Regions from separate parts of the Homo sapiens genome. Here all the other regions are linked to region 4. The links come from fine-mapping of genetic effects on gene expression. A gene starts in region 4. Each other region holds a variant in brackets. All regions are shown on one strand. Distances are between the middles of the regions.

The links. PIP is the estimated chance that this variant, and not a neighbour inherited with it, causes the effect. A credible set is the group of variants that fine-mapping cannot tell apart.
Region 1: its variant is the best candidate, but not a certain one, in a credible set for the expression of MS4A6A in whole blood (INTERVAL, PIP 0.81).
Region 2: its variant is the best candidate, but not a certain one, in a credible set for the expression of MS4A6A in whole blood (TOPMed, PIP 0.50).
Region 3: its variant is the best candidate, but not a certain one, in a credible set for the expression of MS4A6A in whole blood (TOPMed, PIP 0.63).
Region 5: its variant is the best candidate, but not a certain one, in a credible set for the expression of MS4A6A in whole blood (TOPMed, PIP 0.50).
Region 6: its variant is the best candidate, but not a certain one, in a credible set for the expression of MS4A6A in whole blood (TOPMed, PIP 0.75).
Region 7: its variant is the best candidate, but not a certain one, in a credible set for the expression of MS4A6A in whole blood (TOPMed, PIP 0.75).

What each region holds. Positions count from the first base shown.
Region 1 is chr11:60,651,005-60,655,074 of GRCh38, forward strand. It overlaps LINC00301 (long intergenic non-protein coding RNA 301), which reads left to right. Exons shown (of 7, transcript NR_026946.1): 5 at 2,685-2,779. The region is part of intron 4 of LOC105369321 (a long non-coding RNA gene); the gene reads right to left. Among named protein-coding and RNA genes, the nearest start is that of LINC00301, 37 kb to the left of the region's middle. The variant C/T (reference allele first, on the strand shown) is at 2,369.
Region 2 is chr11:60,579,978-60,584,047 of GRCh38, forward strand. It overlaps the pseudogene MS4A19P. Among named protein-coding and RNA genes, the nearest start is that of LINC00301, 34 kb to the right of the region's middle. The variant T/G (reference allele first, on the strand shown) is at 1,651.
Region 3 is chr11:60,226,160-60,230,229 of GRCh38, forward strand. MS4A4E (membrane spanning 4-domains A4E) reads right to left here. Exons shown (of 9, transcript NM_001393391.1): 2 at 3,753-3,912; 3 at 2,435-2,468. The coding sequence starts at 3,896. Among named protein-coding and RNA genes, the nearest start is that of MS4A4E, 15 kb to the right of the region's middle. The variant A/G (reference allele first, on the strand shown) is at 2,408.
Region 4 is chr11:60,180,614-60,184,670 of GRCh38, forward strand. MS4A6A (membrane spanning 4-domains A6A) reads right to left here and starts at 2,470. Exons shown (of 6, transcript NM_022349.4): 1 at 2,365-2,470; 2 at 968-1,128. The coding sequence starts at 1,114.
Region 5 is chr11:60,526,639-60,530,708 of GRCh38, forward strand. It overlaps MS4A13 (membrane spanning 4-domains A13), which reads left to right. Exons shown (of 7, transcript NM_001012417.3): 6 at 2,727-2,822. Among named protein-coding and RNA genes, the nearest start is that of MS4A13, 13 kb to the left of the region's middle. RefSeq lists a silencer at 2,427-2,576. The variant T/C (reference allele first, on the strand shown) is at 2,236.
Region 6 is chr11:60,220,455-60,224,524 of GRCh38, forward strand. All of the region lies in intron 3 of MS4A4E (membrane spanning 4-domains A4E), which reads right to left. Among named protein-coding and RNA genes, the nearest start is that of MIR6503, 13 kb to the left of the region's middle. The variant C/G (reference allele first, on the strand shown) is at 1,905.
Region 7 is chr11:60,236,282-60,240,351 of GRCh38, forward strand. All of the region lies in intron 1 of MS4A4E (membrane spanning 4-domains A4E), which reads right to left. Among named protein-coding and RNA genes, the nearest start is that of MS4A4E, 4.8 kb to the right of the region's middle. The variant A/C (reference allele first, on the strand shown) is at 2,071.

The DNA of each region.
Region 1 (4,070 bases), 470 kb after region 4:
TCTCATGCCTATATCTGATTTAGATGATACTCTTGACTTTGGACTTTTGAGCTGTTGCTGGAACAAGTTAAGACTTTGGGTCTCTAGGGATAGAATGACTGCATTTTGTATATTAGGACATATGTTTTGGGGGACTATGGGATAAATGCTATGGTTTGAAGGTTTGTCCCCTCCCAAATCGTGTTGAAATTTAGTTGCCGTTTTATCAATATTAAGAGGCAAGACCTTTAAGAGTGATTCATCCATGATGTCTCTGCTCTCATGAATGGATTAATGCCTTATCACTGGAGTGGCTTTGTTATTGAGGGAATCGGTTCATTATAAAAGGAAGAGTTTGGTCCTCTTTTGCCTCTCTATCTCTCACCATCTCTTTGCCTTTCCACCATGGGATGACACAACAGTAAGACCCTTGCCAGATGCCAACTCCTCAATCTTAGACTTCCCAGCTTCCAAAACTTTGAGCCAATAAATTACACAGTCTGTGGTATTCTATTACAGCACAAAATGGACTAATACAACTTGAGAGGAGCCTAATATATGATGTATCCTGGAGAATGTTCCATTAGTACTTGAGAAGAATGTGTATTCTGCTACTATTAGAAGAAATGTTCTTTATTTGTATATTAGGTCTATTAGGTCTACAGTGTAGTTCAAGTCCAGGATTTCCTTAATGATTTTCTGTCTGGATGATCTGTCCATTGCTGAAAGTGGGATATTGAAGTTGCCTACTATTATTGAATTGCAGTTTATTGCTCCCTTCATATCTATTAATATTATATATATGCACACATTTATATGGTGCTCCAATGTCGGGTGCATATATATTTACAATTGTTATGTCCTTTTGATGAATTGACCCCTTTATCACTATATAATTACTTTGTCTCTTTTTACGATTTTTTACTTAAAGTCTATCTTGACACATATAAGATAGCTACCCATGCACTGGTCTCCCTTTGTGTGGAATATCTTTTTCCATCCCTTCACTTTTAGTCTAAGAGTGTCTTTAAAGGTGAAGTGAGTCTCTTATAGGTTCCATAGAGTTGGGTCTTATTTGTTTATTCATTCAACCACTCTGTCTTTTGATTGGAGAATTTAATCTATTTACATTTAAGGTAATGTTTGACAAGTGAAGAGTTAGTATTGCCATTTTGGTATTTGTTTACTGACTGTTTTGTAGTTCCTTTGTTCTTCCAATCTTGCTGGTTTCCTTTGTGATTTGTTGAATTTTTGTAGTGATATGCTTTGATTTTTTTTTTATCTTTTTCACATCTGCTATAGGCTTTCTTTGTTTTGTTTTGGGTTTTTTTTGGTTTTTCTAATACTTTAAGTTCTAGGGTACATGTGCACAACGTGCAAGTTTGTTACATAGGTACACATGTGCCATGTTGGTTTGCTGCACCGATCAACTCATCATTTACATTAGGTATTTCTCCTAATGCTATTCCTCCCCCAGCCCCCTGACAGGCCCTGGTGTGTGATGTTCCCCACCCTGTGTCCACGTGTTCTAGTTGTTCAACTCTCACCTATGAGTGAGAACATGAGGTGTTTAGTTTTCTGTCCTTGTGATAGTTTGCTGAGAATGATGGTTTCCAGCTTCATCCATGTCCTGGCAAAGGACATGAACTTATCCTTTTTTATGGCTGCATAGTATTCCACGGTGTATATGTGCCACATTTTCTTAATCCAGTCTATCATTGATGGACATTTGGGTTGGTTCCAAGTCTCTGCCATTGTGAATAGTGCCACAATAAACATACGTGTGCATGTGTCTTTACAGTAGCATGATTTATAATCCTTTGGGTGTATACCCAGTAGTGGGATTGCTGGGTCAAATGGTATTTCTAGTTCTAGATCCCTGAGGAATCGCCACACTGTCTTCCATAATGGTTGAACTAGTTTACAGTCCCACCAACAGTGTAAAAGTGTTCCTATTTCTCCACATCCTCTCCAGCACCTGTTGTTTCCTGACTTTTTTATGAACACCATTCTAACTGGTGTGAGATGGTACCTCATTGTGGTTTTGATTCGCATTTCTCTGATGAACAGTGATGATGAGCATTTTTTCATGTGTCTGTTGGCTGCATAAATGTCTTCTTTTGAGAAGTGTCTGTTCATATCCTTTGCCCACTTTTTGATGGGGTTTTTTTTTTCTTGTAAATTGGTTTAAGTTCTTTGTAGAATCTGGATATTAAGCCCTTTGTCAGATGGGTAGATTGCAAAGATTTTCTCCCATTCTGTAGGTTGCTGCTATAGGCTTTCTTTTGTATTTACCATGAGGCTTAAATAAAAAATCTTGTAGATATACCTATTTTAAGCTGATGACAACCCAACCTCACTTGCATACAAAACCTCTACACTTTTACAC[C/T]CCATACCACATTTTACATTTTTCTGTTACAGTTTACTTCTCTAGGAAAGACGAAAATAATGGGAGTGGGTCAGCTACATCAAAAGGTATCTACTCAGTCTCATTTTAAGGTCATTACAGAAGAATAAAATCTAAGAGGTAGCTTTTGGCTTTTGCCAGGAAGTTATTGCTGTTTAGCAGAGAATAGTGTCAGTGGGTTGATGCAAAAAGCTTTTTGCAAGGAATTGCTAAGCAGTGGAAAATCAGAGGCTTCCATTTCAAGTGCCTTATCTCAAAATAATCATTAGTATTACTTGTTCTCTATATTTCTCTATAGCAAAGGAGTCCATTCATCCTCTATAACTGCTATACAATATCTCTGTTAAAATGCTGAGAAGATTTATCCTAAAAGAAGGCACCAAAGCAATGGGGGTAAGGACTAAGTGCTACTTGGGTTAATAAATGACTAGTGTTGCTTCTTCCTAATAGAAAAAGGAAAAGACATTGACCACATCTTCCCCAAAGGAAGGAGAATTGACAAAAGTGTCCTAAGGTGATGATAACTAGCCTAAAGCTAATTGGACTCAAATGTGACGGACCCAAAAAAACATTCCGGAATAGTTCAACGTTACCACAATCCACCCAGGGTTCTAACAAATACATTCTGTGTTTGCTGATATATGAGAGGTCCATTTTCTGCCTGTGTCTGTAAACAGTTTGAATCAAAGCTCATCAATCATAAAGTGGTCAGGTAATGGGCTTAAAACCAGAAAAGGCTGTAGACCCTGGGGCACTGTACTGTCAACATGTGCCCCTTACATTCAGCTCAGGTGGGTCACATTCTGCTTCAATGATCTCCCGCTCAGCTCTCCTCAATCTTAGAATACTATACCCTTTTGTATTATCCAATATTTGTGGGACCTTGAATCACATTTGCATTTAAGTCAGCAACATTAAACCTTGCACTAGGAAAATTCTCAACGTATCAAATATATTATTATCTCCAGCTGGTTGAGACCTACCCAGTACACTATCAGAATGCAGGGCATACCTACATGCCTCTGAGTCAACAGGCAAAAATGAGAGTTAACGATGTTAGCTAGGGTGATCAATCCAGGATGCCAAGGGGAAATTGGACCACTACTTCACAATGAATAGAGGCAAAAATGAATATGTCTGGAATACAGGAGATCCTTTAAGATGTCTCTTAGTACTGTCATGCCCCATGATTAAGGTCAATGGGAAATTACAACAACCCAATCCAGGCAAGCCTATGAATGGCCCAGACTCTTCAGGATTAAAGGTTTGGGTTATCCTGTCAGGTAAAGAAACATGACCAGCCAAGGTTGCATAATACCCAGGCACAACCCCAAAGTAGACAGCTGTAGCACTGTAGCCCCTTTCTGAGGCATTCCTGAAGAAAATAATGAAGAAAAATCTTCCCAGTGGACAGAACTTCAAGCAGTACACGAGGTTGTATATTTTGCTTGGAAGGAGAAATAGCCGGGTGTGTGACTATATACTAATTCATGGGCTGTGGCCAATGGTGTGGCTGGAATGTCAGGGACTTGAAACGAATATGATTAGAAAAGTGGTGACATAGGAGTCTAGAGAACAGGTTTGTGGATAGACTTCTGAATAGGCAAAACACATAAAGATATTTGTGTCCCATGTTAATGTCCACCAAAGAGCATGATTCTCCTGCCTCAGCCTCCCAAGTAGC
Region 2 (4,070 bases), 400 kb after region 4:
TCAACTGGAGATGTCAAGTAGCCTGTTGGACATGGAATGTAGAGTTCAGAAGACAGAATTAGAATAAAAGATACAGACTTGCAGAAAGGACAAGACTTCACCAACCAAGTATCTGCTGCCTTCAAGAGACTCACCTAACACATAAGGAATCACATAAACTTAAAGGAAAGGGGTAGAAAAAGATGTTCCATGCAAATGGACACCAAAAGCTAGCAGGAGTAACTATTCCTCTATGAGACAAAACAAACTTCAAAGGAACAGCAGTTAAAAAAGACAAAGATAGACCTTATATAATAATAAAAGGCCTTGTCCAACAAGAAAATATCACAGTCCTAAATATATACGCACCTAATGCTGGAGCTCCCAAATTTATAAAACAATTACTACTAGACCTAAGAAATGAGATAGCAACACAATAATAGGGGGGACTTCAATACTCCACTGGCAGCACTAGACAGGTCATCAAGACAGAAAATCGACAAAGAAACTATTGATTTAAACTATACCCTGGAAGAAATTGACTTAACAGATATTTACAAAACCATTGTACCCAACAACTGCAGAATATGCATTCTATTCATCAGCACATGGAACTTTCTCCAAGATAGACCAAATGATAGGCCACAAAACAGGTCTCAATAAATTTAGGAAAACTGAAATAATATCAAGTATTCTCTCAGACCACGTGGAATAAAATTGGAAATCAACTCCAAAAGGGACCTTCAAAACCATGCAAATACATGGAAATTAAATAACCTGCTCCTGAATGATCATTGGGTCAACAATGAAATCACAATGGAAATTACAAAATTCTTTGAACTGAATAATAGTGACACAAACTATCAAAACCTCTGGGATACAGCAAAGGCAGTACTAAGAAAAAAGTTCATACCCTTACATGCCTACATCAAAAAGTCTGAAAGAGCACAAATAGACAATCTAAGGTCACACCTCAAGGAACTAGAGAAACAAGAACAAACCAAACACAAACCCAGCAGAAGAAAAGAAATAGCCAAGATTAGAGCAGAACAAAATGAAATTGGGGGAAAAAAGCAATGCAAAAGATAAATGAAACAAAGAGCTGGCTCTTTGAAAAGGTAAATAAAATTGATAGACCATTAGCAAGAGTAACCAAGAAAAGAGAGATGATCCAAATAAGCTCAATTAGAAATGAAATGGGAGATATTACAACTGAAACCACAGAAATACAAAAGTTAACTCAAGGCTACTATGAACACCTTGTGCACATAAATTAGAAAACCTAGAGGAGATGGAAAAATTTCTGGAAATTTACTACCCTCTTAGATTAAACCAGGAAGATATAGAAGCTCTGAACATACCAAAAACAAGCAGCAAGATTAAAATGGTAATTAAAAATTACTAACAAAAAAAAAGCCCAGGACCAGTTGGATTCACAGCAGAATTCTATCAGACCTTCAAAGAAGAATTGGTACCAATCCTACTGACACAACTCCAAAAGACAGAGAAAGAGGGAATCCTCCCTAAATCATTCTATGAGGCCAGTATCACCCCAATACCAAAACCAGGAAAAGGACATAACAAAAAAAGAAAACTACAGACAAATATCCCTGATGAACATAAATGCAAAAATCCTTAACAAAATACTAGCTAACCAAATCCAACAGCATA[T/G]CAAAAAAGTAATCCACCATGATCAAGTGGGTTTCACACCAGGAAGGCAGGGGTGTTTTAACATACTCAAGTCAATAAATGTGATACGCCACATAAACAGAATTAAAAACAAAAATCACATGATCATCTCAATAGATGCAGAAAAAGCATTTGACAAAATCCAGCATCACTTTATTATTAAAACCCTCAGCAAAATTGGCATACAAGGGACATACCTCAATGTAATAAAAGCCATCTAACAAATCTACAGCCAACATAATACTGAATGGGGAAAAGTTGAAAGCATTCCCTCTGAGAACTGGAACAAGACAAGGATGCTCACTCTCACCACTTCTATTCAACATAGTGCTGGAAGTCCTAGCCAGAGCAATCAGACAAGAGAAAGAAATAAAAGGCATCCAAATCAATAAAGAGGAAGTCAAACTCTTGCTGTTTCCTAATGATACAGTTGTATATCCAGAAAACCCTAATGACTCATCCAAAAAACTCTTAAAACTGGTAAATGAATTCAGCAAAGTTTCAGGATATAAAATTAATGTACACAAATCAGTAGCTCTGCTATACACCAACAGCAACCAAGCTGAGAAACAAATGAAGAACTCAACCCCTTTTACAATAGCTGCAAAAAAAATAAAATATTTAGGAGTACACCTAACTAAGGAGTTGAAAGACCTCTACAATGAAAACTACAAAACACCACTAAAAGAAATCATAGATGACAGAAATAAATAGAAACATCCCATGCTCATTTGCTGGGTAGAATCAGTATTTTGAAAATGGCCATACTGCCAAAAGCAATCTACAAATTCAGCACAATTCCCATCAAAATACTACCATCGTTCCTCACAGAACTGGAAAAAAACAATCCTACAGTTCATATGGAACCAAAAAAAAAAAAAAAAAGCCTACATAGCTAAAGCAAGATTAAGCAAAAACAACAGATCTGGAAGCATCATATTACCCAACTTCAAACTATACTATAAAGCCCAAACAGCATGGCACTGGTATAAAAATAGGCACATAGACCAGTGGAACAGAATAGAGAACCCAGAAATAAAGCCAAATACTTACAGTTGGTGTATCTTTGACAAAGCAAACAAAAACATAAAGTGGGGAAAGGACACCCTATTTAACAAATGGTGCTGAGAGAATTGGCAAGCCACATATAGGAGAATGAAACTGGACCCTCATCTCTCACCTTATTCAAAAATCAACTCAACATGGATCAAGGACTTAAATCTAAAAAAAAATATATAGAAGATAACATCGGAAGAACCCTTCTAGACATTGGCTTGGGCAAAGACTTCATGACCAAGAACCCAAAAGCAAATGCAACGAAAACAAAGATAAATAGGTGGGATTTAATTAAACTAAAGAGCTTCTGCACAGCAACAGGAACAGTCAGCAGAGTAAACATCAGAGTAAACAGACAACCCACAGAGTGGGAGAAAATCTTCACAATCTACACATCTGACACAGGACTAATATCCAGAATCTACAAGAAACTCAAACAAATTAGCAAGAAAAAATCAAACAGTCCCATCAAAAAGTGGGCTAAGGACATGAATACACAATTCTCAAAAGAAGATATACAAATGGCCAATAAACATATGAAAAAATGCTCAACATCACTAATGATCAGGGAAATGCAAATCAAAACCACAATGTGATACCACCTTACTCCTGCAAGAATGGCCATAATAAAAAAATTAAAAAAAATAGATGTTGGCATGGATGCAGTGAAAAGGGAACACTTCTATGCTGGTGGGGGAATGTAAACTAATACAACCATTATGGAAAACAGTGTGGAGAGTTCTTAAAGAACTAAAAGTAGAACTACGATTTGATCCAGTAATCCCACTGCTGGGTATCTACTCAGAGGAAAAAAAAAGGTCATACAAAAAAGATACTTGCACCCACATGTTTATAGCAGCACAATTTGCAATTGAAAAAATATGGAACCAGCCCAAATGTCCATCAATCTACAAGTAGATAAAGAAGCTGTGGTATACATTTACAATGGAATACTACTCAGCCATAAAAAGCAACAAATTAATGGCATTCACAACAACCTGGATGGAACTGGAGACTACTATTTTAAGTGAAGTAACTCAGGAATGAAAAACCAAACATTGTATGTTCTCACCCATAAGTGGGAGCTAAGCTATGAGGCTGCAAGGGCATAAGAATGATACAGTGGACTTTGGGGACTCAGGGGAAAGGGTGGGAGAGGGTGAGGGATAAAAGACTACAAATTGGGTTCAGTGTATACTGCTCAGGTGATGGGTGCACCAAAATCTCACAAGTCACCGCTAAAGAATTTACTCATGTAACCAAATACCACCTGTTCCCAAAAACCTATATAAATTTTTTAAAAATAATAAATGTAATGACAAAAAAGCTTAAAAAAGTAAGAAATC
Region 3 (4,070 bases), 46 kb after region 4:
AATTTTCAAAACAGAAAGCACCAGGCCTGGAAAGGTTTGGAATTCTACCAAACACTTGAAAATGAAATTATACCAATTCTTTACAGAAAACAGAAAAAGAGGAAATACTCCCTAACTCATTCTATGGAGCTAGCACTATTATCTACCAAAAAAAAAAGTCAAAAACATTACAAGAAAAGAAAACTGCAGACCAACATCTCTGGTGAACAAAGATGCAAAAATTCCCAACAAAACATGTGCAAACTAAATCTAATAGTGTATCAAAAGAATTATATACCATAACCATATGGGATTTATCCCAGATATGCAAGGCTGACTAGACATTCAAAAATCAATGAATGTAACTAATGACATCAACAGGCTAAAAGGAAGAAAAATCACATGATTATATCAACAGATGCAGGAAAAATATTGAGCAAAATCCAATGCCTGTTTATTATAAAAACTTTTGAAAAACTATTAATAGAGGATAACTTGTTTAGGTTGATAAAGAATATTTATTAATAAAACTACAGCTAACTTCATACTTAATGGAGAAATTCAAAGCTTTCTCACTAAGATCAGGACCAAGGCAGGGATAAGCCTGTCACTACTCCTTTTACCATTTACTGGAAGTCATAGCTGAAATGGTAAGACAAGAAAAGGAAATAAAGGTATACAATTGGTAAGGAAAAAAATAAAACTGCTTTTATTCACAGATGACGTGATTGTCTGTGTAGAATATCTGAAAGAATCAACCAAAAACTCCTGGAATTAACAAATGATTATATTAAGGTTGTAGGATACAAGCTTAATACACAAGAGTCAATTACTTTCTTATGTACTTATAGTAAATAAGTGAAATTTGAAATTAAAAATGCAATACTATTTAAATTAGCAACCCTAAAAATTAAATATTTAGGTATTGGTATTTGGTGTTTGTTAGGCATAAATCTAACAAACTATGTACAAAATCTATAAGAGAAACTTAAAAAAAAATAAGTCGAATAACTAAATAAATGGAGAGATATTCCATGTCCATGGATAGGAAGACTCAACATTGTCAAGACATCAGTTCTTCCCAATTTAATCTGTAGATTTAATGCAATCTCCCTCAAAATATTAGCAAATGGCCGGGCGTGGTGGCTCACCCCTGTAATCCCAGCACTTTGGGAGGCCGAAGCGGGCGGATCACGAGGTCAGGAGATTGAGACCATCCTGGCTAACATGGTGAAACCCCATCTCTACTAAAAATACAAAAAGTTAGCCAGGCATAGTGGCAGGCGCCTGTAGTCCCAGCTACTCCAGAGGCTGAGGCAGGAGAATGGTGTGAACCCGGGAGGCAGAGCTTGCAGTGAGCTGAGATTGGGCCACTGCACTCCAGCCTGGGTGACAGCGCCAGACTCCATCTCAAAATATATATATATATATTAGCAAATTATTTGTGTATATTGATAAACTGACTCTAAAGTTTATAGGGAAAGGCAAAAGACTTAGAATAACAAAAACAATCTTGAAGAAGAAGGAGTTTTAGGAGTAACACTACCCATCTTTAGGACAAACTATAAAGTGATAGTAATCAGGACTGTGTGATATTGGCAAAGAAATAGACAAATAGATCAAGGGAATAGAATAGAAAGCCTAGAAATAGACACAGAAGTATAGTCAAGTGATCTTTGATAAAGAACTAAGATAATACAATTAGAAGAATAGTCTTTCCAAAAAAAAAATACTACTTAAAAAACTGGACCTCCATAGGCAAAAATTGAACTTAGACACATACCTTGTATCCTTCACAAAAATTAACTCAAAATAAATCACAGACCCAAATGTTGAACTCAAAACTCTGAAACTCTTAACAGATGACATAGGCCAAAATCTAGATGACCTTGGTTTTGGTGATGAGTTTGTCAATACAATACCAAAGGCACAACCCATGAAATACCGAATTAATCATCTTAATTTTATTAAAATTAAAAAATTCTGCTCTGCAGAAGACACTGTCAGAAGAAAAGATAAACCACAGACTGACAGAAGGTATTTGCAAAAAACATACCTGACAAAGGATTGTTATTCAAAATATACAACGAAATTCAAACTCAACATTAAGAATACTAACATCCCAATTAAAAAAATGTGTCAAAAACTTTAATAAGACACCTCAAGAAAGAAGATATGGAGATGGTAAATAAACATATAAAAAGATGCCCCACATCTTATGTCACCAGGGAAATGAAAATTAAAATGGTAATGAGATTGGACTACACACCTATTAGAATGGTAAAAAATCCAGAACATTGAGGAAATCAAATGCTAGCAATTATGTAGAACAGCAGGAACTCTCCTTCATTGTTGACTGAAATCTTCAAAATTGCAAAGTAACAGGGAAGACAGTTTGGCAGTTTCTTACAAAACTAAACATACTCTT[A/G]CAATACAATATAGTAATCATACTTACCCGAATGAGTTGAAAACTTATGTCCACACAAAACCTGCACACAGATATTTATAGCAACGTTACTCCTAATTGCCAAAGTTTGGAAGCCATCAAGATGTCCTTCTGTAGGTGAATGCATAAATAAACTGTGGTACCTCTAGACAATGAAATATTATTCAGTACTAAAAATAAATGAGCTATTAAGCCATAAGAAAACATAGAGGAAATTTAAATGCATGTTATTAGGTGAAGGAAGGCAGTCTTTAAAAACTACCTAATTTATAATGTTAACTGTATGACTTTCTGGAAAAGGCAAACTATGAAGACGATAGAAGATTAGTGATTGCCAGGGATTGGTGGGATACTGTATGATACTATAAAGGTAGATTCATATCACTATGCCTTTGTTAAAGCCCATAGAACACACAACACAGAGAATGAACCCCATTGTGATTTGTGTACTTTGAGTAATGATGTGTCAACATAGGTTCATCAACTGGAACAAATGTCCCACTCTGGTGGGGGAAGTTGATAATTGAAAAGCTATGCATGTGTCGGGGCAAGGGGCATATGGGATATACCTGTACTTTGCTCTCAATTGTTCTTTAAGCCTAAAACTGCTCTAAAACATACAGTATATTTTAAAATAATTATCCATACATTTAAAAATTGAACCTAGTATGTGCCAACATAAATAACATATTTTATGAGAAGTAACTATATTTCTCTCCAAAAAAATGAATAATGCAAAAAAAGAGAAGGAATCCAAAGAATCCACAGTGACATTTTCTCAGTGGTTTGAAGCTTGGGCTAGTGATAAACCTATATTTAATGTTCTTTCACCTTCCCTAACCTGTCACTGTTTTAATTCTATATTGTTTTTAGACACGTTCGCCTGAGACTCCAGAAGGAAATGCTCAGAGAATAGCAGATTTTTCATCCTCTGAGCAGTAGGCTAAGAAAAGCTGCAAGAAAGAAAGAGTAGCAATATACATCTATCAGCTGTCAGGAAGGCCTGTGGAGGGGGAGTCAGCTAGTGGACAGGTGGGCCTTTTCTTTTGCCGTTCTTCTATATTGAAGTTAAATATAATTATCATGGCTGACCCACAACCCTAGAATAGATCTGAAGTCAATATATTTTAAATATAATTAATTTGGAAGCAGGATGTGATAGAATATTATATATTTTTTCAAAGAAAGGGCCTGAAATTAAATTCTGATGTTACTAGGGCTGGTTGATGTATTATGAGGCTAGCGGGACAGTGTATTGGGCATTAGCTCTGATCAAATGTGAGTTTACAACACTATTGGTCTTCTCCCAGATTTGCAATTGACTTACCCCAAGGACTTTGGGTTTCCTCTTGAAGAACTTCTCTTGCAATCCTTTACACAGATATGAATGTATGACATCTATGTTTCCCAGCTGGGGCACATCAGGGCCAGCCCCTGGAGTGGTCTGTTCCATTCCTTGCATGGTTGTCATGGCAGCAGAAAAGGTGCTACAATAAGAAATGTAATTTAGGATGAGGTCCTGGAAATGACAAAAGAAAGTCTTGACACTTTGGGGCAGATTCCTCCCTAAGGACAAAACCTGGTCTACATTCCCCTCCAATATTATAACAGTTGTTAGAGCTAGGGAAGTGGAAGAGGCAACACA
Region 4 (4,057 bases):
TTAGTTATTTTTCCTGATCCTCTCTCTCCTCCCACCCTCCACCCTCTGAAAGGCCTCAGTGTGCATTGTTCTGTTCTACGTGTCCATGTGTTCTCATCATTTAGAGGCCATCCCCCTTAGCAGACTAACACAGGGACAGAAACCAAATACTGCATGTTCTCATGTATAACTGAAGCTCTGTCTTAGGAGGTAGTTTTCCTTCCTGACATCCACCTCAGAGATTCACAGCTCTATTATCATTTACCAAAAAGTTTTCTAGACCTTATGTCACATGAGCCTCATAGAAACCCATGTGATTGTACATGAGGCAAGGAAACCAGTCCCACCAGGTCCTGAAATCCAGTCAAACAGAGTGCCTCACCTCAGATCACATAAGTGCAGAGGCAATTCTAGAAACCAAAACTCTGTGTTTCCCTCCCAATCCAAGATAGATCCCTTCTTTCTCTCCTCCCTTCATGCAATACAGCTTCTTTAATAAATTCTGGGTGAGAGGAGAAACAGACAAACAAAAGGTGAATATCATTTCCATTCTCAAAAACGTTAGGAGAAAAGAGGAAAAGGAGTTGTATATTTCCTCTAATTTGCAGTGAGGGAAAAATTATTTGCAAAAAGTCAGTTTGGATTATTAAGCATGCAGTTGTGGAATATATACACATACACACAATATGTCATTATTTACCACCATTACTTTTGTAAAAGAAAATATAGAAAAGCACTGTATTGTAAAAATACAAAGACAACAATAGAAAATCAATTCCTCATATTCAGAATAAGGGAAAATATATTTTTAAGACAACCTCTTGTGGAAAAGTTCTGGGACAGTTTTCTCCAAGTGGCTTCTACCCTAAAGTCCCTCTAGCAAAATTTTAGGGTCTCCACACTCACGACAGATGTCCAGTCCCAAGACATATATCATCTCTTGGCACTTCCCCCAACCCCTCTCCAACACGTTCTGAATTAGATTTACCCCAATAACTTTGATTTCTGCGTGTAGATGTTTCTTCAGGCTATCCTGCCCCTGGTTGGTGGGTTCGGGTTTCTCTGCTTGGGAGAAGTTGATGACATTTGATGGGAGCACTATGATGGTCTCATTGGGAACAGGTTGTGATGTCATGATGGTGTTGCCAACTATGTAAGAAAAAATAGATTTAGCTCTTAAAAAGTACAGAGCTCCCAGGTTCTGACTCCAAAAACAGTAACTCAGTCTTTGCCAATTAGTCTAGGCTTGGCCTGTCCATTAGAGAAAGAAACTGATAGTATGGAACAGTGAAAACCACACAATCTTGGTTTCATGAGGATTTTTCCATAATGTTTGACACAGTCCATTATAGATAATAAACACATCACAGGGTGGCAGCAACATGAATCTTGAGAGGTCTCAATGTCCAGAGGCAAATGGTCACACAAAATTTGCAATATGCAACAACCTCCCTTTCCTCTAGTCCTACTGACAACAACTGTATTGCCATATATTTGATGAATTTTCAGACTAATAAATGAACTCTGCTTACTTATTTCTTGTTTAATAATACTATTTATTAGCACTCAGATATGTTTATCATATTTTACCAGACACATTCTTAATTTTTACCCTGCAGTGCTTTTAATCCTTACAACAGCTCTGCATGTTAGTAAGTTAGTAAAAACATGTAATAAATAAGAAAATGCAAAATAAAGTTTAAGTTATGAATGCAAATAATATACCTATTGCATATATGTGTGGCCCAGAGTTAATGCTGAAGAAATATTTGCAGTTACCCTTATTGTTCACCCTGGTTCACACAGCCGGGAAGCTGTAAAACCAGTCTTGGATCTCAGCTTTCCTGGAGTCTGAAGCCTTTGCATAAATCTCTAGATCATTCTACCTCTTCCTAATTTCCCACCTGGCATTGCCAGCCTGTGTCTGAGTTTACTCAGGCTGGAGAAACAGCTGCATGCAGTGGTATGAGAACAAGTCTTGGACTCATAACACATAGGCTCGCGTCGTTGGTCCTCCCCACTTTTTAGCATAAAGACCAAGTAGGTTGTGGTATTTGTTGCTAAGCTCAGCTTGGATCCCTTTTCACGGCACCATTCTCAAAGCACAGACCGCCCAGTTTACAAATGGTCTAAACACATTTGAAGAGACAAGAGCTCTGCTCCCATTAATTACACAACCTTAGGTAAGTGACTCACTGAGTTTATGCAATTAGAATACAGCGGACACAGAGTTAAAAACAGATACTCCTTCCATTTGCCCACTCTATTTCCAAAAGGCCCTAGTGTCTCTTAACTGCTGTCAAGGAGTTTCAAGTTAAATTACTCCTCTAATGAGGTCACGGCAAGGGAATAGTGAGATGAGAAAAGTCTTCCAGCATTACCTACCTGTGCCCGTTGGTTCCAGCTGAGTCCTCAGAAGCTCCAAAGAGGTTTTAACTCTGGTTTCTCAGTCCCATCAACGGTTTCTACTTACCTTCATCTTCTGAAAGTCATCAGCCCTTCCTTATTCCAGTGTTTACAGCTATACAGGATGTGATACTCACAGATTGTAGATTTGTGAAATGTTCCTGCACTTCCTTTTCTGTAAACTTCTAGCAACTTCAGTAAAACCATGAAAAGAGCCAACTAATATTTGTGAGAGTTCAGGAGTCATGGAGCCTTATGTGTGAATTGCCACTTCGAGACATACAAGTTTCCTGTTGTTAGGCAAGTCTGTTCTTGAAGCTTCAGTTTTCTAATCTGTTAAATAGAGGAGCAATACCAACACTGGAGAATTGTCATAAAGATGAGCAAAAATATTTATAAAAAGCCTATGCTGCTTTGAAGCTTTCAATAACATGTAACTAATAACAGTAATAGTGCTAGTAATCATAATATAGAGAAAGAACAATATTCCACTGTCTATAACTAACCATAATAATAATAATAGCAATAATGACTACACTGCTTTAAAGGAACATTCATTAATATATAGCTAATAGTAATATAGAACATAAAAAAACTTTTAAAAAATTGTTTTTTATATATATAGTTTGTTTGTTTGTTTTGTTTTATCTTGCTTTTCTAATTCCCCAAGTCTTGGCAGGCTGAAAGCAACCTTTCAATACTGATTGCCCAACTGCTGCCTACCCTCAAGTCATCTTCCTCCTCTGGCTGCTCTTTTTCTCTAACAACAGATCTTTGCCCTCCAGAAAGGTTGGGCCCCTCCAGGGAAGCATTGAAATATTGAAACAGAGAAGGAACAAATGGGAAAGATTCAGCAGGACCTAAATGAATTCAGTAAACTCATATGCAGGCTGGTTTTGTGAGGACAGAGGCACTGTGCCCCTTCAAAACCTTGGGTGGCATTCTTTGGAAGCTGACTTCAATGTATCAGGCAAGGAAACCAGAGCCAGTCAGGGCAATGGCAAAGCCCCACCCTGCAAGCTTCCTTCCTCCTTTCCTTGGGGGAGCTTCCAGAATGAACCCAGAAACACAACCTGAACCATCACCGTCACCACAGAGGGCCATGGATTCTGCACTTAATTCCACACATTAACTCTCCTGTTGAAGAAAGGAGTTAAGAAGCACCATTTAGAAGGCTGGATTAGTTCTCAGCGTCTGAATGACACAGACATTATGAAATGTAATTGGCTTGTCTTAAGTTCTAACAATAAATCTGAGAGGAGGAATGGACTCACACAGAAAGCCTGGGGAGAGGGGCAGAATCACCTCCAACCTTGCTCACCCAAGCTCCTGGCGCCCCTTCCTCTTTCGCAGAGTGCCGTCTGTGTTTCCAGTGGGTGCCCTGCATCTTTGTCACCCTCACAGCATCTGTGAAACAGTGGAATGCAGCTCTCCTCCTGAGCTTTGATTAAAAAGGAGCCCAGTCTCTTTGGTCTCTTCAGGAGCAATCACACCCCCTTTCCCTTCAGGGGAATGTGCTAATAAACCAGTTAAAGTTGCCTACCTAAGCAAAGGCTCCCTCTCCAGTCAGTTTTCCTCTCTGTGCTATTTAATTTAAAATCATTTCTGAGTTTTAAGGATTATGTGAGACAACACGTGTAAGGTTCCTAGCACAGAACCCTTCGGAATGATG
Region 5 (4,070 bases), 350 kb after region 4:
ATTACAGAATTATATACTTACACTTGCTAAGGCAGCCAACATTTTACAGGACTTTTACATGCCAACTTTTCTCACATAAGCAAGGGGCTTGGCTAAATCTACAAAGTCATCAAGTTTTCAGTGTTCCCAGGCAGGGTCAGAAAAGTGCATGCATCTGAAATATACTCCTCATATAGCAAAATGGTTAATAGTATAGATTCCAGGATCAGAGTGCACTTATTTAAATACTATCCTCAGTACTCACTGTGTGTAAACCCCTGGAAAAGTTTCTTAACTTAACTGTTTCCAAGTTTTCTTTTGTGAGAAATGAAGAAAATGCCTGCTAGTTAACTGCTCTGTTCTTTCTTCCAAACTCCCGGCCTGTTGTTTTAAAAGCTAGTTTGACTTTTCTACTTGGCTATGTTTCTATCACTATTATATCAAACTCAACAGATATAAAATGGAAATTACTTACCTCCTCAGAAGTACTATACTGCAAGACTCCCTCGTTTCAATCTCCCACATACAAAACCTTGACATAATACCTCATCTCTTTCTACTGTCTTTATAATTACCAAATATTGCTTATTCTTCATTTAAGTATTTATTAATTAGGGTTATCTTGGTTTTAAGTAATAGGAAATACAACCCAAGTTGACTTAAGGCAAAAAGGGTCACTTACTTTACTTAAGCTGGGTCCAGAAGCTTACAGTTTACATCATCTGCCAGGAACTCATTCATTCCGTCTCTCTCTCTCTCTCTCTCTCTCTCTCTCTCTCTCTCTCTCTCTCTCTGTGTGTGTGTGTGTGTGTGTGTGTGTGTGTGTGTTTCCGTTTCCTCAGTTTTCATATTTGAGCTGCTCTGGCCAACCTTTTGCCGCTTTCAGTCAGGGAGGGAGTTTTAGAATAGCACTCTCATATAAATTAAAGAATATGGGGCCAGGCACGGTGGCTCACGCCTGTAATCCCAGCACTTTGGAAGGCCAAGGCAGGCGGATCACTTGAGATCAGATGTTCGAGACCAGCCTGGCCAACAAGGTGAAACCCTGTCTCCACTAAAAATACAAAAGTTAGCTGGGCATGGCGGTGGGCACCTGTAATCCCAGCTACTCCGGAGGCTAAGGCACGAGAATCGCTTGAACCCAGGAGGCAGAGGTTGCAGTGAGCCGAGATTGCGCCACTGCACTCCAGCCTGGGTGATAGAGCGAGACTCAGTCTCAAAATAAATTAAATTAAAAAATTAAAAAAAATAAGGAATATGGGTAAAATGACTTTTCACAGTCTTGTCAGCTAAGAGGTCCCAAGTACTTTCTAGCTAAAATGTTATGATTATGATTGTGCATTTCTGCCAACAAAAGTAAATCAAAATTATTTACCTTGGTATTTCAAACTTTCTACATCTTTTCCTTATCCTCCTGTTTATATCATATATGAATGAACACTGTAATTCAGTTAAAACCTGTTTTTCATTTTCTCAAAATGTTATATTGCTTACACTCAGTTTTGTTCTCACATTAAAAACCATAGGTTGTTCAAATATGTATTTTAGCTTTACTCTACTGGTTGTATTTTATGTCTCAATTTTTAAATTATTTTGTCACACTTTTAATTTATGCTATTAAACTCTTTCTGAAACAAGATAGGTTACAAGGAAACAAGCAAATAAAAATTTAAAGTTGCCTAGAATGCTGTTTCCTTCCTTCGTTTTTCTCAGTCCTACCCTTATTTCAAAGGTCCTACCACTTTATGAAGCCTTCCCAGAGAGTAATAGCTTGGAGTGAACCTCCTGTCCCTCCTGTCCCCTATAATGATTGAGCAAGTTTTTATCCATTTTTTATGGTACCTTATATTATCTTTCTGTCTCTTCTACTTCATTATAAACTCTAAGAAATCAGGAAGTTATGTGTCATTGCATTCCTATCATCTAATTCCTACTACCAGATAGTTTCTTGAATATAAAAGATATTAAATAAACCAAACAAAGAAGGAGGAGGAAGAGTTAGAGAAGGAATTGAAAGGGAGAGAATTATGATGTCATTCTTTCTAGTTCTGAGTATCATTCTTGTCTTTCCACAGCCAGCACAAAACCCACATTTTCAGGATGAGTACCAATATTATTCACATAACTAACCAATCGGATTTGTAGTTGAAAATATCTTTCTGATAGCAACAGAAGGGAATCTGTTTTATTTATCCCAGCAGTCACAATCACCTTATGCTTCCAAGTTAAATGTTCTTTGAACTCTTTTTGAATGTA[T/C]TAATCATTTTAAATGATATTAGAGCAATATATATGTGAGAGTTTTATCACCATGTATGTAAATTTAAGAAGGGTTGTGATTAATAATAGCTGTTTTAATAGAAAAGGATTGCTTGATAAATCTGTTGGTGGCCATCTTATCATTAGAGACAGGAAAGTCAAATCTTACTAACTGGAGAGTTTAGATAGTGAGCTGTGCCAGCGACTCTGTAAAAGCTGTCAGAAGTGAGACAAGAATGCTAAGCAATGGAGATCAAATGCAGAAGCCACAGATGCTGAATTGAGGAACTGAAAGCTAGGGAAAGTGTAGCAGAGGGCAAAGGAGTAGAAATGTCTAAGGAAATCAAATGGTGAAAGGTTTATCTGTTCTTATTTTCCTTCCTTTTTTTTTTTTTTTTTTTTGACTCTCATACCAGTAGCTCCTTCCATGATCATGTTTGCACTCACTAAAGATAATAGCATTAAGATTTCTCCCTGTTTTTTGGTTATAGAAACTTGGGAGGGAAGTATCACGTATTTTACTGTTCTTCTACGGTTTGGAATTTTCTATTGCACTTACACACTCAATATACAGCTGTTCCAATTTGGTAAGTGTTTACCCACTCTCTGGCAAATCAAAAGATGTTGATTTCTAGTAACTACACTCTATGAGAAGATGAAGTGCACTGATACAAAATATTTAGAACTAATATAAATGGAATGTGTGATATTGCCTTTATTTTTTATTTTTGTTATTTTATAAATAGCATAAAATTATAACAGTAATACATGAAACTACATTTAAAAGCAAAAAGCATATAGAGTAAAAAGTGATTTTTCTTTAATATAGTTCTCATCGTATCCACACATCCAATTCTATACAAAAAAAGACGAATACACACACATTCTCTTTACTAATTGTATGTATTATATTCACATTATTTTGTCACATTCATTTTTTGCAATGATTAGAAATATCTTTCCATTACAAAACATATCTAAATAATGCCTTTTATTGCCTTCATTGTTTTTCTTAGTATTTAGCATTCCCTAATTACTGCATATGTAGCTTGGTTTCCAGTTTTTTCTAAATTATAAACAATGATGCAGTGAACATTTGAGTATAAATATTTTTGCATACAGGACCACTAATTCTTTAGGTGTTTGATTCCTAGAAATGTCATTGCAGGATCAAGTGTAACAACATCCCAAAATGCTATAACAACTCACAAAAGTTTATGAGAATGATTATTTTCTCACAAGCTTAAAAGACTACATATCTAACATTCATTCATTCTTTCTCAAATATTTACGGAGAGCATGCTATTTGCTAGGCATTGTCATAGGCACTAAGGATGCAATGATTAACAAAACAATGGCCTCTCCATTAGGGAGTTTGCATTCCACTGGGGGAGAAAGGCAATAAACAAACACATAAAATTATAAAATGTCAAGAACTGAAAAATGTTATGAAGTAAAATAAAGCAAACTAAGGAGATAAGGCAAGATTATTTTATGTAGGATGGTCAAGGAAGACTACTATGATCAACAACTGATTGAAATACAGAAACAACTATAAGACTACATGGTAAAAGGATTTCTGAAGAGAGGGAATGAGTTGCATTTCCAGAATGGCTGATTGAGGACATGGTAACTCTCCCTAAAAATGAAATTATAAAACTGAACAAAATTGTCAATGAACAACCTTCTAAAGATTCAGGAAGTTGACCAAGCATACAAGAACTTGAGAAGTGTTTATTTAAGAAAATCTACTGGACCTCAGTAAGAACAGTGCATGTCTGTGGCATGTTAGCTTGGGACTGTTCCCACTCTTCCCACCTGATATGGTTAGGCTT
Region 6 (4,070 bases), 40 kb after region 4:
TGTCCTACCTCAGGGGTATATCAACTCTTCTCTGGCTTTGTGTCATGACCTTGTTCAGGGAGATCTTGATCACTTTTCCCTTCCACAAAATATCACACTGGTCCATTATATTGATGCCATTATACTGATGGGATCCAGTGAGCAAGAAGTAGCAAGCACACTGGACTTATTGGTAAGACATTTGCATGCCAGAGGATGGGAAATAAATATGACTAAAATTCAGGGACCTTCTACCTCAGTAAAATTTCTAGGGGTTCAGTGGTGTGGGGCCTGTCAAGATGTTCCTTCTAAGGTGAAGGATAAGTTGCTGTATTTGCCCCCACCCCCTACAACCAAGAAAGACTCACAATGCCTAGTGGGCTTATTTGGGTTTTGGAGGCCACACATTCGTTACCTGGGGGTGTTACTTGGCCCATTAATCAAGAGACCTGAAAGGCTTCCAGTTTTGAGTGGGGTCCAGGACAGGAGAAGGCTCTGCAACAGGTCCAAACTGCTATGCAAGTTGCTCTGTCACTTGGGCCATAGAACAGAGCAGATCTAATTGTGCTTGAGGTGTCAGCAGCAGAGAGGGATGCTGTTAGGAGCCTTTGGAAGTCCCCCATAGATGAATCACAGCAGAGGCCTCTAGGATTTTGGAGGAAGGCCCTGCCATCTTCTGCAGATAACTACTTTCCTTTTTAGAAAGAGCTCTTGCCCTGTTACTGGACTTTGGTAGAAACTAAACGGTTGGCTATGGGTCATCAAGTCACCATGCGACCTGAACTACCTATCATGAATTGAGTGCTTTCTGACTTGTCTAGCCAAAAGTGGGGCATGCACAGCAGCATTCCATCATCAAATGGAAGTGGCATATATGTGATCAGGCTTGAGCAACTCCTGAGGGCACAAGTAAGTTATATGAGGAAGTGGCACAAATGCTCATGATCCCCATTCCTGCCACACTGCCTTCTCTCCCCCAGCCTGCACTGATGGTCTCATGGGGAGTTCCCCAGGATCAATTAACAGAGGAAGAGAAGACAAGGGCCCTGTTTACAGATGGCTCTGCACGATATGCAGGCACCACCTCAAAGTGGTCAGCTGCAGCACTACAGCCCCTTCCTAGGACATCCCTGAAGGACAGCGGTGAAGGAAAATCGTCCCAGTGGGCAGAATGTTGAGCACTGCACCTCATTGTGCACTTTGCTTGGAAGGAGAAATGGCCAGATCTGCAATTATATACTGATTCATGGGCTATAGCCAATGGTTTGGCTGAGTAGTCAGGGACTTGGAAGAAGCATGATAGGAAAATTGGTGACAAATAAATTTTGGGAAGAGGTATGTGAATGGACCTCTCCGAGTGGTCAAAAACTGTGAAGATATTTGTATTTCATGTGAGTGCTTATCAAACGGTGACCTCAGCAGAGGAGGATTTTAATAATCAAGTAAACAGGATGACTCATTCTATGGACACCAGTCAGCCTCTTTCTCCAGCCACCCCTGTCATTGCCCAATGAGTCCATGAACGAAGTGGCCATGGTGGCAGGGATGGAGGATATGCATGGGCTCAGCAACATGGACTTCCATTCACTGACCTGGCTATGGCCACTGCTGAGCACCTAATTTGCCAGCAGCAAAGACCAGCACTGAGCCCTCAATATAGCACCATTCCTCGGAATGATCAGCCAGCTACTTGGTGGCAAGTTGATTATATTAGACCTCTTCCATCACGGAAAGGGCAGCGGTTTTTCCTCACCAGAATAGACACTTACTTTGGATATGGGTTTGCCTATCCTGCACACAATGCTTCTGGCAAGACTACAATCCAAGAACTCATGGAATGCCTTAACCACTGTCATGGTATCCCACATAGCATTGCCTCTGACCAAGGCACTCACTTGTTGGCTAAAGAAATGCGGCAGTGGGCT[C/G]ATTCTCATGGAATTCACTGGTCTTACCATGTTTCCCATCATCCTGAAGCAGCTGGATTGATAGAATGGTGGAATGTCCTTTTGAAGTCACAATTACAACATCAACCAGGTGACAATACTTTTCAGGGCTGGGGCAATGTTCTCCAGAAGGCTGTGCATGCTCTGAATCAGCGTCTAATATAAGGTACTGTTTCTGCTATAGCCAAGATTTGTGGGTCCAGAAATCAAGGGGTATAAGTGGAAGTGGCACCACTTACCATCACCCCTAGTGACCTACCAGCAAAATTTTTGCTTCCTGTTTCCACAACACTATGTTCTGCTGGCCTAGAGGTCTTAGTTCCAGAGGAAGGAACGTTGCCACCGGGAGACAACAATGATTTCATTAAGCTGGAAGTTAAGATTGCCACCTGGCCATTTTGGGCTCCTCTTACCTCTAAGTCAACCAGCTAAGAAGGGAGTTACAGTGTTGGCTAGGGTGACTGACCTGGACTATCAAGATAAAATTAGTCTACTACTCCACAATGGAGGTAAGGAAGTATGTGTGGAATACAGGAGATCCCTTAGGGTGTCTCTTAGTATTACCATGCCCTATGATTAAGGTCAATGGGAAACTACAACAACCCAATCTGGGCAGGACTACAAATGGCCCAGACTAGGCCTTCTGGAATGAAGGTTTTGGTCACTCCACCAGGAAAAAAAAAAACACAACCTGCTGAGGTGCTTCCTGAAGGCAAAGGGAATACAGAATCGGTGGTAGAAGAAGGCTGTCATCAATACCAGCTACAACCATGTGATCAGTTGCAGAAATGAAGACCGTAATTGTCATGAGTATTTCCTCCTTCTTTTGTTAAGAACATGTTTGTGCATGTATACATTTGTAGTAAGAAAATATCTTCATTTTATTTTCTTTCTTTTTTCTTTACCATGTGACATAAGACCTATTAACTTCATATTAGCATTTAAGTGTTGTTAACTTTAGGTAATAGCATTTGTATAGGGGATTGGTGCATTTTGGGTTGTACAAAAAATAGCTGCATTATGTTAGGCATAATTTTGGCCTTTTGTCTTTATTTTCTTTATTTGAAAATCATGTATGACTTCAGGAGATGTGTGTGGGTTCAGGTTGACAAGGGGTGGACTCTTGATGGTTAATATTGAATGTTAACTTGATTGGATTGAAGGATGCAAAATATCATTCCTGGATGTGACTATGAAGGGGTTGCCAAGGGAGATTAACATTTGAGTCAGTGGACTGGGAAAGGCAGACCCACCCTCAATCTGGGAGAGCACAATCTACTCAGCTGCCAGTGTGGCCAGAATAAAAGTAGGCAGAAGAACATAGAAACACTAGACTGGTTTAGTCTCTGGCCTACATCTTTCTCTCGTGCTGCATGTTTCCTACCCTCAAACATCAGATTTCAAGTTCTTCAGCTTTGGGACTCAAACTGGCTTCATTGCCCCTCAGCTTACAGATGGCCTATTGTGGGACCTCTCCTTGTGATTGTGTGACTCAATACTCCCTAATAAACTTCCTTTTATATATATACACATCTATCCTATTAGTTATGTCCCTCTAGAGAACCCTGACTAATACACTCTCCTTCAAATCTTTCACTTCCGCTGTACACGAGTGAAGGGGAGCAAAAATTAAGCTCTATTATAAAACTCTAAACTGTCTCATTCTCAGTTTTGGAAATAAATGGAAACCCTATAATGCTAGAATAGATTCCTTGATTCTAACATAAACCCGCCTCATAAATTTTATTTTTCTTTTGTCAATAGGTAAGACTTGGTATTTTATTCTCAATTTTACTTTCAATTTGCATCAAAACTCTCTTGTGTTTTCTCTTGGGAAAAGGTTTTTAAACTTAAATTCCAATTCTAATTTTAATTTAATATTAATCATAGTCACTGTTATTAAACTTATGAAACAAAATGTATCAAATAACAATTTAATTTTCTAAGGTAACAATTTCCTGAGATTTGATAGTCAGTAGACTCTATATTAGAAACTGCCTGTTTACCAGCCACATCTCTTTTTCCTTGCTAACTAAACCATCATTTTCTTCAGTTTTTCCTGAGCTAAAAGGTAGTGTAGACTCCTCCCAGCTACAGAGGTAAATCTTAATCAGTCTAAGCCAGTAATGGCAAGTCCATTACCCTTAC
Region 7 (4,070 bases), 56 kb after region 4:
TGAGTCCCTTGTATTTCCATATGATTTTGGAATTAGCTTGCAAATTTCTGAAATAAGGTTGCTTGAATTTTTTATAAAGATTGTGTTGAATCTGTAGGTCAATTTGAATAATATTACCATCTTACCAATATTAAGCCTTCCAGTTCCTGAATATGAGTTTTTTTTCATTTGTTTAAATTTTCTTTAATTTCTTTTAACATTTTGTAGTATTCGATGTACAAGTCTTGTGCTTATTTTGATAAATTTTGTTCTATTTGAAACTATTGTAAAGGAGATTGTTGTCTTAATTTCATTTTTAAATTATTCAGTGCTAGCATATAGAACTCCAATTTATTTTTGTATGTATATATATTTAATTTAACTTTTATTTTAACTTCAGGGGTACATGTGCAGGTTGGTCATACAGGTATTGTGTCATAGGGTTTGATTTACAGATTATTTTATCATCCAGGTTTTTTTTTTTTTTAAATTTTGAAACCGAGTCTTGCTCTGTCACCCAGGCTGGAGTGCAGTGGTGTGATCTCAGCTCACTACAACCTCCGCCTCCAGGGTTCAAGCAATTCTCCTGCCTCAGCCTCCCGAATACCTGGGACTACAGGCATGCACCACCACGCCCGGCTAATTTTTGTATTTTTAGTAGAGATGGGTTTCACCATGTTGGCCAGGCTGGTCCTGAACTCCTGACCTCAGGTGATCCATCCACCTCAGCCTTCCAAAGTTCTGGGATTATAGGCATGAGCCACTGCGCCCAACCATATCACCCATGTTTTAAGCCTAGTACCTATAATTTATTTTTTCTGCTCCTCTCCCTTTTCCCAGCCTCCACCCTCTAATAAGCCCCAGTGTGTGTTGTTCCCCTTTATGTGCCCATGTGTTCTCATCATCTAGCTCCACTTATAAGTGAGAACATGCAGTATTTGGTTTTCTGTTCCTGTGTTAGTTTACTAAGGATAATGGCCTCCAGCTCTATCCATGTTCCTGCAATGAACATGATCTTGTTCTTTTTTTATGGCTGCATAGCATTTCATGGTGTATATATACCACATTTTCTTTATCCAGCCTACTATTGATGGGCATTTAAGTTGATTCCATGTCTTTGCTACTGTGAATAGTGCAGCAATGAACATATGTGTGCATGTGTCTTTAAAATAGAATGATTTCTATTCCTTTGGGTATATACCCACGGTGGGATTGATGGGTTGAATGGTATTTCTGTTTTTAGGTTTTTGAGGAATCACCACAGTGTTCCACAGTGGTTAAACTAATTTACACTCACACCAACAGTGTATTAATATTTCTTTTTCTCCATAACCTCGTTAGTATCTGTTATTTTTATTTTTTTGACTTTTTGTTAATAGTCATTCTGATTGGTGTAAGGGGGCATTTCATTATGGTTTTCACTTGTATTTCTCTAATGATCAGTGATGTTGAGTATTTTTTCATATGACTGTTGGCCGCATGTACATCTTATTTTGAAGTGTCTGTTCATTTGTGTATATTATTTGTATCCTTCAAGCTTGCTTAACTCATTCATTAATTCTAATAGCTTTTTATTTGGTAGGGGAGTGATTCCATTCTATTCGTCATTGGATGAGTATTTTTATCATAAAAAGTATTGGATTTTGTTAATTTTTTAATCTATTGAGGCATTCGTGGTGGCTTTTTGCGGTTTTTGTCTTTTATTCTATTAATGCATTATGTAACACTGATTTTTTGAATGCTAAATTTTATATTCTTGAGATTAATCTGACTTTGTCCTCATATATAATCTTTTTTACATGTTGCCGAATTCTGCTTGCTAATTTTTTTTTAGCATTTGTGTCTGTATTCATGAGAGACATTCATATGTAGTTTTGTTCGCTTATGTTGTCTTTTCTTGATTTTGGTGTCAAAATAATACTAGCCTTATGTAATAAGTTTGGAATTGTTCCCTTCTCTTCTAGTTTTTGATGGAAGGGTATTAATTCTTTTTAAAATGTTTAGTAAAATTCACCAGTGAAATCACAGGAGCCTGGGCTTTCCTTTATAAAAGTTTTTAAAATTCCTCATTTAATCTCTTATTACAGATCT[A/C]TTCAGATTTTGTATTTCTTCTTATTTTTGTATTTCTTCTTCAGTCAGTTTTAGTAGTATCTTCATAAAAATTTGACCATTTCATATGTTATCTGATTTATTTGGATATAATTTTATAGTATCCCTTATAATTTCTTTAATTCTGTAAGTTTGGTAATTATGCTGCCTCTTTCATTCCTGATTTTAGTGATTTCTTCTTGTAATTTTTGTCATTCAATATAGCTAAAGGTTTTTCAAATTTGTTGATCGTTGCAAGAATGAACTTTGGGTTTTGTTGATTTACTCTAATGTGTTTCTACTCTCTATTATTTTCACTCTAGTCTTTATTATTTCTTTTCTACAAGTTGTTTCCATTTAGTTTGTTCTTCTTTTTCCAGTTTATTAAGGTGGAAGATTAGATTACTGAGCCCTATAGATTCACATCCAAATTCTAACACATGTACAAAGAAGTGTTTATACCACAGAAGAGCTAATAAATACCAAAGAGCTAATCCTACTGAAACTATTCCTAAAACATAAGGAGGATTCCTCCCTAACTGATTCTTTGCAAAATGTCAACCATGAACCAGCCTTACGACCTATCCCTTCCATTCCCAGATACATACAAAGAGAAATAAAAACATATGTCCACACAAAAACTTGTAAAATGAATTTTCCTAGCAGTATTACCTATAATAGTCAAAAGGTGCAAACAACCCAAATGTCCAACAACTGAGGAATGAATAAATGTGCAAATAAAAGAGTTCTTCTATTCGCCAGACTAGTGTAGTGGATCCTCTTAAGCAAACGAGTTCTGGAATTAAATTACCCGGATTTAAATTTTGGCCCTGCCACTCCTTACTCAAGTTAATTAATCTTGTGTTTCTGTAACTCTACTCTGTGAATAATACAGCATATCTCGTAGAGAAATTTAATGATGAAATAGCACAGGTAAACATTTAAACCAGTTCATGTCACTTAATAAATACTAACTACCTATTGACTATTATTATTGGTCTTCCTACTATCACTTACTCATTTCTGGCTTGAAGTATAAAACATAAATTTCCTCTAACACTTCCTACCACTCAAGGACATGCTAAAGAGGGGCTTTATTCCTGGCATGACCCTGCTCCAACCTGTCCTGTCTTGGGGGAAGTGAAAAAGCAGAAAGGAGGGGTCTATATAACTGGTGAGAGCATGTTATTCATGGTACCGTGTTGTCAGAGGTTGACTCTTCCTCTCTTTTGCAGTTTGTCTCAAAGATTGGTCAGAAGAGTCAGGGTTGTGCTTGTTTTTGCTCTCATGGACTAGGTAGATACAAGACTATGTAGAGGTGGGCCAAGAGGCCCTCCTCTTCCTCTTGTAATCTCTGTTCTAATGATAATGGAGTTTATGAGGTGACTTACATTTACATTTTATTGAGTAGGTATAATCAAACCTATAAGTAGACTTCAGCATCCCCTGAACAGAATACAAAATTTAGATTTGGAGCAAACGAATAAAATAAAATAGCAGGCCTTATTTTTGGTCTTAAACTGAATCCATACCCTCAAATTTTGCTGAACTTGAGAGAATTGTCCCCCTCTGGGGTTAATTTTGAAGTCACTATAATAAAGCCCATAATTTGATCATTTATCAAATTGTTCCAGCAAAGAGAAGAGGTAATTTTTATTTCAAACATTAGAAGACCAAATTAGAAGATATTCAGTCTTCCTCAAAATTTATCTTTCAGATAAAGGAAGGTGGCACAAGGAATATTATGTGGAGATTACTTCAGAACACTACAAGCAGTCCCTAATCAAGAGAGGCAAGAGCTAAAGGTAACAGGAATGCTAAGAGGGCTATGCGACTGCAAATGTCCTTTCTTGGTAGAAGGCCCAACAATTAGCTCAGTTGTCTGTGTTAAATGTCTGGTAGTTTGTCATTGATACCTTCCGTTACATACCTTCTATGCTCCATCAATCATATTCTAATTCTACGCAACCATTTTTTAACTCTGTATTTCTCCCATCTCCTCG